Homo sapiens: one gene and its partners. The protein of the gene in region 2 interacts with the protein of the main gene of each other region in a pairwise test. Each region holds a gene or a part of one and is shown on either strand. Other genes may lie near its edges. The genes, in order: LPL, UBE2Z, RNF103 and RNF144B.

What was found.
Region 1: the proteins of UBE2Z (region 2) and LPL interact in a two-hybrid assay, tested with the Homo sapiens proteins (one large-scale study listed by BioGRID and IntAct).
Region 3: the proteins of UBE2Z (region 2) and RNF103 interact in a two-hybrid assay, tested with the Homo sapiens proteins (one large-scale study listed by BioGRID and IntAct).
Region 4: the proteins of UBE2Z (region 2) and RNF144B interact in a two-hybrid assay, tested with the Homo sapiens proteins (one large-scale study listed by BioGRID and IntAct).

The regions. Positions count from the first base shown.
Region 1 is NC_000008.11:19,956,141-19,960,029, reverse strand, and holds part of LPL (lipoprotein lipase precursor), read right to left. Parts: intron 771-3,889; coding exon 650-770; intron 1-649. UniProt on the Homo sapiens protein: Key enzyme in triglyceride metabolism.
Region 2 is NC_000017.11:48,911,407-48,914,906, reverse strand, and holds part of UBE2Z (ubiquitin-conjugating enzyme E2 Z), read right to left. Parts: intron 2,074-3,500; coding exon 1,886-2,073; intron 1-1,885. UniProt on the Homo sapiens protein: Catalyzes the covalent attachment of ubiquitin to other proteins. Specific substrate for UBA6, not charged with ubiquitin by UBE1. May be involved in apoptosis regulation.
Region 3 is NC_000002.12:86,620,677-86,625,211, forward strand, and holds the start of RNF103 (E3 ubiquitin-protein ligase RNF103), read right to left. Parts: upstream 3,190-4,535; 5' UTR 3,187-3,189; coding exon of another isoform or gene 3,140-3,186; 5' UTR 2,211-3,139; coding exon 1,985-2,210; intron 1-1,984. UniProt on the Homo sapiens protein: Acts as an E2-dependent E3 ubiquitin-protein ligase, probably involved in the ER-associated protein degradation pathway.
Region 4 is NC_000006.12:18,390,057-18,393,945, forward strand, and holds part of RNF144B (E3 ubiquitin-protein ligase RNF144B), read left to right. Parts: intron 1-3,889.

The DNA of each region.
Region 1 (3,889 bases), on a different chromosome or scaffold from region 2:
ATCACCTGAGATCAGGAATTCAAGACCAGCTTGGCCAACATGGTGAGACCCTGTCGCTACTAAAAATACAAAAATTAGCTGGGCATGGTGGTGGGCACCTGCAGCCCCAGCTACTCGGGAGGCTGAGACAGAAGAATTGTTTGAACTCGGGAGGTAGAGGTTGCAGTGAGCTGAGATCGAATCACTGCACTCCAGCCTGGGCAATAGAGAGAGACTCCATCTCAAAAAAAAAAAAAAAAAAAAAAAAAAAAAGAGCTAACACTTTGTCATGGACTTCTTACTACTTATATTTTCTGTACATATTATATGTACATCTATAGAGTGGTTTCCTGTTACCATTGCTCATTTTCTTTAATGTCAAACCTTTTGAGATAGTTTAATTATATTGTTTAACAGCAGCTTTATAAAAGAAATAAACAGATATAAGATGATAAATAAAAAAATATAACTAGTAAGTGAAAATAAAATGGCCAATTTGAAGCATTTTTTTCTCAATATCAAATAGAGGAAAGACCTCAATTTTGAAATTCTGATTTTTTTAACTAAAGACTTGTTTTCTAGGCATCGCTCTCTGCTTCTGCTGCTCAGACCAAGGGTTATGGCAGGAGAGGGACTGGTGCCATGATGACCGCCCCCCTGTGCTACTCACAGAGTGAATGGGATGTTCTCACTCTCGGCCACGGTGCCATACAGAGAAATCTCAAAGGCCTGATTGGTATGGGTTTCACTCTCAGTCCCAGAAAAATGAATCTTTACTTGGTAATGGAAGACTGTTGGGGAGGAAATTCGAACATGTTGATCAATCTTTATGAAAATATCACAACCCCAAATAGTCAGGCAATTCAGAACCACAGAAGTATCTCACTAGCACTCAAACCGGAAGTGCACACACATGGAACCACTGGTGTGGCTTGGAAAGACTTCATCATGCACAGTGTTCATACCTAGAAAATGCAGACCTTGAATTCTACTCCCTTTCAGAAAAGTGTGGTTATATGCATAGGAAAAACCCAAATGTGTCTGAATTGCCAAGCAGCATTAGGAAGTAGCCATCTTTGAGGGGTGCTAGGGAGATCAAATCAGAAGGCCAAAACACTCATGATGCTTTCTCCATGAACTCCGCCATCCTTGGCCATCTTGTGCCTTAGCATCTGGAGCAAGCATATTTGACATTTGCTTCTGTGTCACTATATGTCACTGTGTTTGTTTCATGAGTAGGTCTGTCCTCCACCCTGACTGTAAGCGGGCTTCCGGTCACAGGATCATGCCCATGCTCTTAATTCCCCCACCATCTAGCGCAGATTAGGTGTCTAGTAGGTGCATCATAGAACTTATTTCGTTGATTTTTCCATTCCGTAATGGGCACACCAAAATCTCACAAATCACTACTAAAGAACTTACTCATGTAACCAAACACCACCTGTTCCCCCAATAACCTATGGAAATAAATAAAATTTTTTTTAAAAAAGAACTTATTTCATTGAGCCATCAGTGAGGCCACAAGGACTGCCTTGTAAAGCCAGCCCCTAAAGTATTCTATACTAGGGACAGCCTCTGGAAGCAGGTAGTTGAACTTCTATATCTCCTCCCTGCCCCTCCTCTGGTCTCTACCAAAAACCCTGAGCAAATGGGCCTGGGGAGAGGTTAAAAGGAAAGGCAGCAGGACTAAAATAGAACCATGATGATGGAGGAAAAAAGAGTTCTTGGAGGCCAGGCATGGTGGCTCATGCCTGTAATCCCAGCACTTTGGGAGGCCTTGGTGGGTGAATCACCTGAGGTCAGGAGTTTGAGACTAGCTTGGCCAACATGGTGAAACCCTGTTTCTACTAAGAAAAATACAGAAATTAGTTGGGCGTGGTGGCGGGTGCCTGTAATCCCAGTTACTCAGGAGGCTGAGGCAGGAGAATCGCTTGAACCGGAAAGCAGAGGTTGCAGTGAGCTAAGATTGCGCCGCTGCACTCCAGCCTGGGTAACTGAGCGAGACTGTGTCTCAAAAATAAATAAATAAATAAATAAATAAATAAATAAATAAATAAATAAAATAATTCTTGGAATGTTTTTTCTTCTATATCCCACTATCCTTGGTCAGATTTTTTTCTTATTTGTGTTACTGTCTATTAAATGTATTTTCTCTTAAGCTGAGACACAGATCTCTTAAGACTGATGGTTTAGAATATAGCAGACCATATTTTTATGCTGCTTTAGACTCTTGTCCAGGTGAAAAAATTTTTAATAAATGTTGTGAACTTCTGATAACAATCTCTATTTTGTTTAGATACATCTCTTTTTATAATTAAAAAGTAGTCAGATACTAAGCAAAAACAGAAGAACAACAACAAAACCCCACAGCTGCTAAAAGATGAAGAGACATTGAATTGAGAATTAAGCAAAACCCTTGCAGGCAGCAGGACAGGCCAGAGCTGAAGAAGCTGGGAGTGGTGAGGTGCCCCTAGGGGACACTGACAGAGCCTTGAACCCACTGGTGCAGGAGGCAGGGATGAGTGAAGCCTGTCTGTGTCTTCAAGATTATGGTCCCACAGTCCTCTCTTTACCTCATACGCATTGCCTGATTTTGAAGAGTTAAGGTTTCCTTGAAGCACAGGTGCCTCAACCTCTATACCACGAAAGACACCTCTACAGATTCTAAGAATCACCTTACACATGGGTGCCATATGTTTTACCTGGGGCCACTGTTCTTTAATATCATCCCTTCCCTCAGGTTTCCATCTGGATTCCACAAAAGCCACCCTTCCTGAAGTTGGTCCCTCTCACCGGATTTATCCGAAGACCTCCTCTCTCATTTTCCGACCATTCCTTTAGGTCTGCCTCTAAACAAGAGGCCAAGCTTGAAATTCAAGTGTGAAACAAACTCCTGGCAAAATGGCAGTATCTTAGAAGGTGTGAGATATTCTTGCCTTCCAGGAATAGTTGCATTTAAAAAGACAGATGAGGCCAAGGAGGGCAGATCACCTGAGGTCAGCAGTTCGAGACCAGCCTGGTCAACACGGTGAAACCCCCTCTCTACTAAAAATACAAAAATTAGCTGGGCATGATGGTGCATGCCTGTTATCCCAGCTACTCCGGAGGCTGAGGCAGGGGAATCATTTGAACCCGGGAGGCAGAGGTTGTGGTGAGCCAAGATCATGCCCCTCTCCTCCAGCCTAGGAGAAAGCTAGACTTCATCTCAAATTAAATAAATAAATAAATAAGACAGATGGTCCTTGCCTTTATGTAAGTTGTGAACATTCTGTAAAGGGCCAGGGAGTAAATATTTTAGGCTCTGTGGGCTATCAACTCTGTTATGGTGGCATGAAACCAGCCTTTGACAATATGGTAATGAATGTGTGTGGCTGTGTCCTAATAAAACTTTGCATGAGCACATAGAGGGGAACAACAGACACTGGGGCCTCCCAGAGGGTGGGAGGAGGGAGAGCTTCAGGAAAAGTAACTAATGGGTACTAAGCTTAATACCTGGGTGATGGAATATTCTGGACAACAAACTCCCATGTCACAAGTTTACCTTTTTAGCAAACCTACATACGTACCCCTGAACTTAAAAGTTTTAAAAAAACTATTTACAAAAGCAGGAAGTAGGCTGGATTTGGCACAAGGGTTATAGTTTGTTGACCCGAGGTGGATGGTTCCAAATGAGCTCTGAGCTCTGTGCTGATAGCCTAGCCCATGCTAATGGCCACATTTACAGGGGAGGGCAGCGAGCAAGGCTGCAAATCCCACACTGAGCACTGGGACCTTGCTGACAATGGGAATTAGAAGCCTCAGACAAATGGATCAATGCAACCCCCTATCAACAGAAACACCAGGGCTCAGGGTTTAGTAACACCAGTCATCATCTCTGTTCCAATGGACAGAATCAGTACATGTGATGCAG
Region 2 (3,500 bases):
TGGGACTAGAGGCATGCGCCACCATGCCTGGCTAATTTTTGTATTTTTAGTAGAGACGGGGTTTCGCCAGGCTAGGCTGGTCTCGAACTCCTGACCTCAGGTGATCCACCCGCCTCGGCCTCCCAAAGTGCTGGGATTACAGGTGTGAGCCACCGCACCCGGCTGAAATTTTCTACTCTGTGATTCTTTATGGCAAATTTTCAATTTCAGGGCAGCTTCTCCTTTTCTACCTAACACACTTCTACTACTTTTACCCCACTGTCCTGTGGCTGGTATCTCAAAAGAGTTTTATATTGACCCAATGAGGGAGAGCCTACTTTGAGACACGCTTTCGCGAACAAATTTCATACAGAAGCAACGACTAAATTTCTTTATCATCATGGGTTTTAGCCTACCAGCAAAGACAATTAATTAAGTACCCTAACGAGATGAAGTACTTCTTTAAGGACAACCTCCTTTAAAAGACTTCTTCACTGCCAAAATCACAGCAGAACATATCCCTGGGTCTGAGCAAGTCCTAGAAAAATGAATCATGTCTCTAAGTTTATTTCAAATGCTGCTCTTCCCTCACACAAACCTGGAAACATGTTGGATAGCAGGAAAACAGAATAATCAGTTTGGGGGTACTTTCTCAACTTCAACCTGCACGTGTTCTCTGTCCCAGAGAAGTTCAGACCACTATAAAAACACCAATCCAAAATATGCGAGAAGATGTCCACACTGAGTTTTCAGCCCCCAAAGGCAACTAAAATGGGAACTCTATGAAGCAAAACCTCAGAAGCATCCAGAAAGAAGATGCACTAGAAACTCATTTCATATCTAATGTGATTTCCAATCTCAGACATTTGTCATTATTAAAATATTATAATCAGGTCAGGCATGGAGGCTCATGCCTGTAACCCCAGTGCTTTGGGAGCCACAAGAGGACGACTGCTTGAGGACAAGAATTCAAGACCAGCCTGGGCAACATAGTGAGATACCTGCCTCTACCAACAAAACAAAACAAAACAAAAACAAACAAAACAAAACAAAAATGAAACCATAATGATCACCACCACCACCACCGCCACTGCCTTCAAAGCAACTTATTGCAAGACTCAAATTAAGACACCCCAAATCTTGAATGGCACAGACCTGCAGCCTTTCTCAACCTGTTCAGGAGAGAAAATAAGGCCTTAACACCCCAAGAGAGTGGTTCTGAAACTGCAGTATGCACCACAATCATCTGGAGAGCTTGTAAAAAACAGATTTCTGGGCCGGGCACGGTGGCTCATGCCTCTAATCCCAGCACTTTGGGAGGCCAAGGTGAGTGGATGATGAGGTCAAGAGATCGAGACCATCCTGGCCAACATGGTGAAACTCCGTCTCTACTAAAGATACAAAAATTAGCTAGGTGTGGTGGTGCACGCCTGTAGCCCCAGCTACTTGGGAGACTGAGGCAGGAGAATCGCTTGAATCTGGGAGGCAGAGGTTGCAGTGAGCCAAGATCGTGCCACTGCACTCCAGCCTGGCGACAGAGCAAGACTCCGTCTCAAAACAAACAAAAAACAACAACCAAAAAAACCAGATTTTTGGCCCCAACCCCAGAGTTTCTTTTGTAGGTCTAAGATAGGGCCCCAGAAACTGCTCGGCTACAAGTTCCCAGATGCTCAGGGCCACACTCTTAAGAGAACCACTTCTCAAAGGTTACCACTGTAATAAATTAACTTCTCCCCTCTGCATCTAGAATGATACTAGTCACATACCATCCTGAGGAGATTTGAGAAGAGTCACTCAATCATTTTCTGTGTTCTGTAGTTCAGATGAGGGACTCCGGTTGATAAAGGCTGACCTAGAGTAATTATCTGCTAACAACCGACTTGGCTACTTAAAAGTCTCCTCTTACCCTAGAATACTCAAGCAGACTTTCCCATTGCGGTAGAAGTTGGGGTTAAACCTCACTGTGTTATTGCCCGTTGTCATCAGTTTGACCCGAGGTGGGTGGATGGGATAGTCGGGCGGACACCGAAACACGAACAGGAAGAAACCCCCTTCATAAGGAGTGTCAAATGGGCCTGTGATCAATGCATGAATCTGCAAAATAAAACCCCATCTCAAAATTGTGAGGTGATGACCCACCCCAAGCCCTCCTGGCTACCCTCCACCTACTACCCACACCAGAAGCAGAGTCCATAATCTGGTACACATGTTCTATATCCTCACCATGCAGAAGGAACATCCTGTATTCACTCATACTAATACGTAGGTTTGGAATTTTAAGAAATCTCATTACAGTGGAATGACATCTTACTCAGGGGTTACTTCTAAAGTTAGAGCCCAAGGCGAAAACTGAATCTAGTCAAAATCACTCTTGAGTATCCCCTAAAACTCTCTTAAAGCATTTTTTTTTTTTGTGCAGACCTCCCTGATCAGTGTTACATATAATGGATAAAACACCACTGTGGAAAAATATAATATGCTTATCTATAAAATATAACCCTAGCGTTTTTAATTTTGAGAAATCGACACAGATTTTGACTGAATATATGTTTGGATTTGCCCAGGCCAAACATGCATATGATGCAACCCCACCCTACATTTATGTGGCACGAAGGGAAAGTATGATGAAAGGAGACGAAGAAAGGGATTGGAGGCCACAGCCCAGTGCCAGTAACACAGCAGGGTTAGGGGGTGTGATGGATGCCTAGGGTATCTGCTTGCTTCCTCTGCAGAGGATCAAACCTATTGTGGAGGATGTGGCTCAGGCAGCACATCATGACTGAAAATGGGGAAGACTCAGGGTCCACTCAGAGCCATTAGACCAGTCCCAGAACTTTCCCCAATACTGTTTAAAAAAAAAAAAAAAAAAAAAATCAGCCGTCCTGAAAACGACACTAAATTCTCTTCCCCCTCAAGCCATAATTCTTCAACAGGATTTCCCCCCCTGAAGGGAGGAAAACCTGAACTGACTCAGTTATATTTCTTCTTCCACAAAGGCTCCTAGGCATTTAGGTCTGCTAAGCATTTGAACAGCAAAAGGAAAGGGACGTGGCAATCCAATGCCTAAGTCTATAGTTCCCACCTTGCCCTCCTGGCAAGACCCTACGTCATATTCTGGCTCTCAGTCATTTGGAATAGTAAACTCAACTGGTCTCAACATGGCATCAACTCTGGGACCCCAGGTACTAGGCTATTAACACTGGTACTTGACTGAGGACGAGATGTCCTAGGAAAAACATTTCTAACTACATAAAAAAAAAATATGAAGGGAAATCTATTCAAAACAACAAAAAAAGATACACCAACAATACAAAATCTGAATTTTTACTGTAAGAAATTTACTGTAAGAAAACTATGTGTTTCACTTAAACAGCATTAGGTTTAGGAAATATGATTTCTTTCTAACATCAGTTTAAGTGCAACTGCACTTCTGTGGGTAGAGCATTCAGTGACAGAGAAACCTAGGTATCTATGCCAGAGAAATGTGACATTATGTATTAAGCTTTCTCTCTGAGAGGAGG
Region 3 (4,535 bases), on a different chromosome or scaffold from region 2:
AAAAGTGAACAAAATAGACAAAAATCCATCTCTTATAGAACAGGGCTTATATTTTAGTGGGGTTATCACATAATTATTAGGAACTTACCAAATTTGTACCACTCCAAAAAGGCACAACTTTCTTAATTATTTAGTTTTATGAATGACACATACAGGCTTCATATACATTTTTAAACAGTATGGCTTATATGCTTCTTACTTAAAAGATGTAGAATTGGGTTCACAGAATTTGCCATCAGCCCTGCTTAAAAGAGCAACAGGGTTTGTATGACTTGGAGGTTAGAACTTTACCTGTTAGACAGAACAAACTCCATATTCATATACAAATTTATATTATAAATTTAGAGCTTGTATCATTAAACAAAAAGGAAAGGAAAACACTAAAATCAAATTATTTTAACTTTCGCCTTAAATATTAAACAGTGAGAAACCAAGTACTGCACCATGATAGCAGCAAAACCATTCACAATAAACACTTAAATTTTAAACTGCTATACCATGACTTTTCTGCCATAAAACGTGTGATTTGAGTCATACTGGGCTGTGCGTCTTAAAGTTAAATGTGGACTTCTAGTACATTCAATGTGCCAAGTATTTTTAGGCCCAAAAGAAGGCAATAATAAATAACAGTCAAAAGAAAAAAAAATGTGTGACCAAATTATTTTCCATAAAAAAATGATGGCTTTGGCAGTTGAGACACTTCTCATCTCTAAACCAAGAGAGTTTATTTATTAGAGATCTTTTACCCTAGTTACTCCACTTCTTCCCCCTATGGTAGAAATAAGAATCGCCATAAACCAGTCAGCAAACAAGGGGCAAGAATAATATACGATTTTATATTTTCTCTAAAGAAACATTTATCACTTCTGCAGAGTGTGTTCCTCTCCTCTACCCTAATAGTGAGATATGAGTTTTATAACCCGCAACCTACAAATATCCAAGTGTTAAACTGCTAGCGAGCTCATACTCTTGTCTATCACGCTACATGTCTATAAGGTACTAAAGAAGGAAAAGATTTGTCTTGTAAAAGATACAGCTGACAAAAATACTTGAAACAACAAAAAAGATAACCATCAGTTTCAGCTGCTTCCCACAGCAACGCAGAAAGCCTTTCTCAAATTACATTCCACTTTCAGGAAGTATATCCAAAGATATACTTTGTGCAGCAGTGAAAAAAATTAACCATATTTCTCACCCAATCCTACCAAAACCAACAATTACTAAAAACACATTCTTTAAGACATTGAATATTCTCTCAGCACTATTTCACGTATATTTCTCAACCCATTAAACAATGCAAGGGTACCTGTGACACAGAAGACAAAAAAAATTTTTCTTTTACACATCCAAGATGCAAATTTTTAAAAATCCTAACAGAAATATAATATAAACTCGAACATGGCAGGCATTTATACAAAATGCTCGCCTTATTTTCACCAAACTTAAAGTCTGAAAAGCTAATACTGTACGGTGTATACTGTCTATATTCAAACTCATGATTTAACATTTAAATCCTAGGCCCAAGTGCCTCTGATAGTAAGTATTCCAAAGATGTGTCCCCACTCTGGGTATCTTATTATTACTATCGTGACAAATATTGCTATTGACAGACAACGTTTTGGAGTTTTTCTTACGTTTTTATGAACTTCAACTGACAAATAATGCTTTCCAGTTTGTAACTAGTTGATATTCCAGAATTTTGAGAAAATCACTCAACTTAGTAAACAACGCTAAGAAGCCACACTTTAAACTGTCATTTTACGATAACCTTAAAAGGATACACCAACACTCCTCCAAATAATTTCAGACTCCTCCTCAAAGCTGGGATCCGCATACTTGATTGTAGGAAGCTTGGACGAAGAAACCTGGGCAGCTTTAACGCTTCCAGGAAAGGCCTCACTCTGGGGGAACAGCCAGGTACCAGGAGGTACAGGTCGTCCCCTCTCCCAGGTGGAGGGGACCCTAGGGGAAGCCCGATACTCGCCTGACTTTTCCACCAGCTCCCGGACATCCTTCTTCTCGGGCAACCCTGAGTAGCCCAACCCCCGGCACTCCAAAATGGTCTTCAGCTTCTTGAAGCTCAGCGCCACCGGATCCACCAGCTGGGTGGCAAAGATGCCAGTTTCATACCACACAATGGCCTCAAAAAACCTGGCCAGGACGAACAGGACCAGGAAATAGAGGAGCAAGAAAAAAAGCTTCAGCCACATCTTCCCTGGAGTTTCCTCTCTTTCCAGAGAGCTCGGAATACGGGAGAGAGAAGGGTCGAGGGCGGGGGCCGCGGCTCGGTGGCAGCTTGGGCGAGGGCCCCGTGTCCACGCGCGGGCCACCCGGCGCCGTCACTGGCCGGCCATCCCCGGCGGGGAAGCAGGTGACGGGATCCGCGCGGGCGCGAGGCGGCGACGAGGGACGCAGAGACGCAGAGCCTCGCGCCGGGCCTCCCAGTCAAGAGCCGACAAAAATAAAGGGGAAAAACTCAAAACCCCCATCCATTAAGCACAGAAAGGAGAGGGGCGCGGGGAGAGCTCGCGGGGAAGAACAAAACGAGGGACGCTTCCCCCGGGGCGGGCACTGACCCAGGTGGCGGGGTCGGCCCTCCGGTGCCGCGATCTCAAGGGGGAGGGGGAGACCAAAAAATAACTCAGATCCGCCCAGGAGGCGGGGATCCGGGCGGCAGGCCGGGGCCCGAGGGGCCGTGGGGGCCGGACTCCCGCGGCCGCGGGTCAGGAGGGCGCGGCGCTCGGCCGGGCCAGGCCCGGGGCCCAGCGTGTTCTGCGCGGGGAGGAGCGGCCGCCGCAACGCCGCGCCCGAAGCCCAGGCCCCAGGCCCCGCCGACCGCCCAGGCTCCGCGAGAAGAGCGGCGGGCACGGCGGCGGCTCCAGGTTCGCTCGGGCCGGCTGGCGGGCGGCGCCTCTCAGGCGGGCGGGCACTGCGGCCCGGCCCAGGATGGGGCGTCGCGGTCTCTGCAGATGGAATCGGTCTCGGAGGGAAAAAACCAATAATAGGCCCCGAGACTGCTCCTCCAGGCGGCTACCCGGCTGCCTCCCGGCCACTCAGCGCCCGTCCCGCTCGGATGGGCAGTGCCGGTCGCAGCACCCGTCCCCAACACCCCCGCCACCTCCGGAGACCGCGGCCGTACCCTCCACAACCGTGTATCAGCGGCGGCCGCGGCCGGAGCCGAGACATAACAACTGACGTCGCGATGAGGCGGGGCCGGGGCGGGGCCTGCAGGGTGCGCCCGCAGGGGCCGAGGGCGGGGAATTCGGGGAGCCGCGGGGCTACCGGACTACCGAACGAGGGGCGGGAGGAGAGGCGGAGCCGCAGCGTGGTCGGGGCCTTCCCGCGGTGCCGAAAGTTGCCTCTCCGTGCTTTTGCGGCGTGGTCTCCCCTTTTGCCCCTCCAATGTTTAGCAATTGATTTTGTCTGAGGATTAGTCTTTAGATTGTATCACTTTGTGTATTTTTTGTAAAAATAGAGCAGTTAATTATTCTCTTAAAATCGGTGAAAATAGAAATGTACGTTTTTTGATGAATCCTGGTGAACAGGGAAATTTTTGGCACAGTTGGTTTGAGATGGTAGAAGGTTAAACCCAGAAAGCAAATGTTTTGCCCCCTCTTCATGAGAATGTGGCTTTGCACATGTGTGTTGGAGGAGGTTTGGCCAAAACTGGAGTTCGCGTTATACTAGGCCCAGTTGTCGCTGCCAGTTACAGCCTTTTCCCTCCTTCAGTCTCAAGGGTGTTAAAAGCCTGGTGTGGACTCCCTGAGTTCCTAGGACAAAGATTGTCGAGTGTAGATAAGTCCAGGTGCAAAGTTCCGGGTGCTTTATTTTGTACATGGGCCTGGCACAGTGGCTCACGCCTGTAATCCCAGCACTTTGGGAGGCCGAGGCGGGCAGATCACGAGGTCAGGAGTTCGAGACCATCCTGGTTAACACGGTGAAACCCTGCCTCTATTAAAAATACAAAAAATTAGGCCGGCGTGGTGGTGGGCCCCTGTAGTCCCAGCTACTCGGGAGGCTAAGGCAGGAGAATGGCGTGAACCCGGGAGGCGGAGCTTGTAGGGAGCTGAGATCGCGCCACTGCACTCCATCCAGCCTGGGTGACATAGCAAGACTCCGTCTCAAAAAAAAAAAAAAAAAAAAAAAAAAAAAAAGAAAGAAAGAAAAGAAAAAAAAGAGTCACATGGACAAGCATGCGATACCTGGTTCTGTGCTTATAAATTTAACCGGGCCGAGCGTACTCTTTACGTCAATCTCTGTGTCAGTCTTGAGGGAGGAAGGAGTTGGGTTCATAAACTGAACAAGGTTGGCTTTGACCAGCCCCTTTTGATAAGGAAGGAAAAAAAAAACAGTAATTACGGGGAAATGTTACTATTTGTGCAAAACTGTCAACTATCTGAAACTAGGGGTGAAAGTTTTAGGAAGAAAGGGATCATGATCCCAGGTCATGGAGCAAGGGAGGAACGGGAAGCAAAGAATGGACTGTGAGAATGTAGCCTCCGAATGGTGCCCATTTAAAATAAAGTGAACAAGGG
Region 4 (3,889 bases), on a different chromosome or scaffold from region 2:
GATGTGGTCTCTGTCCGGAAGAAATTCTCATAAGGTCAGAAGTGACTTGGGTCTAGAGTGGTAGTTCTGAATTCACATTGCTTTGCCAGATTATAAAAAGTACTTCGATGTTTGTCACCTCGATCATCTTAATTTTCTTGGTAGTGTTACCTTGACCATTTGACCATTAAGAGGTATATGACACCTAAGTTAATTTATGTAAATATTTTAATTCATAATTTTTACCTTTAGGTGTATGTGGGAGGTCTTGGACTAAAGTTTTAGTTTTATTAACTTTGGCATTTGCTATTTACCCAGTCGGTGAGTACTTTGGAACCTAATGCATCATACCATAGTTGTTATTAAAAAATGGATAACTATATATTAAATGAGTAAAAATGACCAATGCTTCTGCAACGTGGAATGAGGATCTTCTCATCTATGAGCAGATCTCTTTCTTGAATTCAAAACACAGCAATCTAAGTGAAATAGACTTTTCTTATTCATAGCTGGAGATACTTCTGATCACATGGCTTGGAGTATTTATTAAGAGCATACTTTGAAAGCCATGTCCCATTGTTTTCTAAATCTTTTGAAGTCACGAGTTTGAGTCCCAGCCCTTCATCAACTTGTTCTTTGTTTTTCTTGGGAAGATAAAACAAGACAACTCGTTTCTGTCTGTTGAACTTGTGGCTGAAACCATAAACCCACACATTCTCCTGCATATGATTATATGAAATCCTCTGTTGAAAACCTCCTCAACTAGTTGACTCTTAATAAGTAGGAGCTGGGTTTAATCACCTTTACATCCCTAGCACCTAATGTGTAGAATTTGTTCTTTGTGTGTTGACTTTGTTTCCTTCATGATAAATTCCTGTTATAGGAAATTAATTGGCAAAGACATACAAAAATCTACACCTGCACTTTGCTCAGGTGGGGTGAAGATTCCTCTTCCAAACTGGTTTCCAATTTGTTTCTAATTAAAATTTCTATATGAAACTTTTAACTTTAACAGGAGGGGGTAATATTGGCACATGCTTTTATTCATTTGAAAAAAAATTTTTGATTTAGATATTCGTGCTTTAGCGGCTCTGGTTTTCTGGTAATGTCCTGACCCAAGAAATCAGCCTGGCTCTTGCTCTATAAGGCTCTTTGAAATACCACTTCTCCTTGATTGGTCAATTACATCATTGTCTGACCTGCCTTTAAGTGGCGTTCCTTCCTGCTTCTGAGCTTTGTTGTTATGCCAGGCATAGGGAAGAAAATTATTTAGCAGGGCTGTGTGAATAATTGTGGGAGGCAGGGAACCACTGATTAAAACAGGAGTGGGCAAGGCACAGTGGTGATATTGAAGAGGTAGCTACCATGATGAATGCAAAATTGCCATGCCAAAAATATCATTGAGCTGTTATTCTCATATTCACTCCCACCTTCTTTGATAAGTTTATATTGTTTGGAAAACTGGGAATGGATTTCTACCTCTTGGGCCTTACCCTGTAGGGTAATGAGAACATGGAAAGAAGGCAAGAAGAAATGTGCTTTTAAGAAAAAGCCAGTTGCGGTGGCTCATGCCTGTAATCCCAGCACTTTGGGAGGCTGAGGTGGGCTGATCACGAGGTCAGGAGATCGAGACCATCCTGGCAAACACGGTGAAACCACATCTCTACTAAAAATACAAAAAAATTAGCCAAGCGTGGTGGTGGGCGCCTGTAGTCCCAGCTACTCGGGAGGCTGAGGCAGGAGGATGGCGTGAACCCAGGAGGCGGAGCTTGCAGTGAGCCGAGATCGGGCCACTGCACTCCAGCCTGGGGGACAGAGCCAGACTCCATCTCAAAAAAAAAGGAGCAGCAGTTTGCAAATGTTAAAACTAGATGTGCCAAGGGCCAGGCGCGGTGACTTACGCCTGTAATCCCAGCACTTTGGGAGGCCGACGCGGGAGGATCACGGAGGTCAGGAGATCGAGACCATCCTGGCTAACATGGTGAAACCCCATCTCTACTAAAAAAAAAAAAAAAAAAAAAAAAAAATTAGGTGTGGTGGCAGGTGCCTGTAGTCCCAGCTACTTGGGAGGCTGAGGCAGGAGAATGGCGTGAACCCAGGAGGCAGAGCTTGCAGCAAGCTGAGATAGCACCACTGCACTGCAGCCTGGGCGACAGAGCGAGACTCCGTCTCAAAAAAAAAACGATGTGCCAGATGTTCTGTCCTCTGTAGGATTTGGAGTTAGCTTATCACAACGTCATGTACATTGTTGGCCATGCTTGGACATCAGCACCAATATATATTTTGTAAGAAAAAATATTAGATCTCACTAAATTAGTTGTAACAGACTTTATTCATAACCTAATTTCAAGCAGCAAAGAGATTGTTTGGAAAACAGTTCTTGCTAATACTTTAAGATGCTTCTCCTTCCTGATGAAGTGCCTACTTTTTTTTTTTAACCCACAAAAAGGTTAATAGGGCTATATTTGCATATCAGTTCCATTTTTAGAAGGTTAATAGTCTCCAAGTTACAAAGTTGTGATCTCATTGCCATCCTAGAAACTGTTGAAATGACGATGTTAAAACTAAGAAATTATAGACTAAATAAAGTGCTTTTTGAGCACTTTAAGCCATGAAACAGTGGCGAGAAAACAGAAGTCCTCTTCTCTACCACAGGAGGCACAGTGATACAATACTGCCACCTCACAGAGCCTGAATAGGTGAATATTTACTTTCTTACATCTAAGACCTAAATATTTCCTGGGTTTGTTTATGCTAGAGGATATTTTCTAATCTATTTCATTTTTTCAAATAATGACAACTTATGTGTAATATCATGTATGTACTCATTGAGTTTGAGCATTATTCTTTTAAAAAGGGCAGATCATGAGGTCAGGAGATCAAGACCATCCTGGCTAACATGGTGAAACCCCGTCTCTACTAAAAAATACAAAAAATTAGCTGGGCGTGATGGCGGGCACCTGTAGTCCCAGCTACTAGGGAGCCTGAGGCAGGAGAATGGTGTGAACCCAGGAGGCAGAGCTTGCAGCGAGCCGAGATCGCGCCACTGCACTCCAGCCTGGAGACAGAGTGAGACTCCATCTCAAAAAAAAAAAAAAAAAGTAATTAATAGATATACAGTTTATTTAAGTAATTGCAGTTCCCTGACTACGAGAGGGGCAGCCTATGTTTCCATTTGTTCATGTCCTCTTAGGTTAGGGCATGCATTAGAACTGTTTTTCTGATTGAAAGAATGTACGCTGGTTCATCTTGTCCTTGAATGACCAGAGAGCTGGTTGGAGATGCAAGCGGAGAGTAGAGCTACAACACTGGCCACAAAGGAGGTCTACCATAAGCCCTTGCTTCCTTCATTGCTGTTGCTACTGCTACCAGCCAGCAGGTCACCCTGCCATTGTATTTGGATTGTATTTAGGGTAGAACTTCAGCTAATGGCTGATAATGCTCAGCACTTTACTAGACTCAATTAGTACCATTGGGTTCACTAATAGTTTCTGTTAGGAAAAGGAACCAGTAGCTAACCAAACTACTCTATTGGGCAGAAGTACCAAGATCAACATAATGCTGATTTTCAGATTGCATTGAGTGGAAACTGGTTGCCTGGTGTGTTCTTAGCTGATATGGGGATAGCTTTCCTAACAAGGCAAGGATGGGACCTTTAGATTGCTGCTCTTTTTTTCTGCTTTATTAGAATATTAGCTTCCCGAGAATATGTCTCCATTTTACAAGGCAACACTTCAGCCTTTCTTCATCACCACCCACCCTTCTCAAAAACTTTCCCCTTTGCTACCTCCCTCCCATATTTATGCATTCATATCTGTTATTCTAGCTACTTCACAGTGATGACTCGATGTCTCACAAAGGCATATAAACACATTGAGAGTATACATATGTCTCCTCTTCTGTTTGTCCC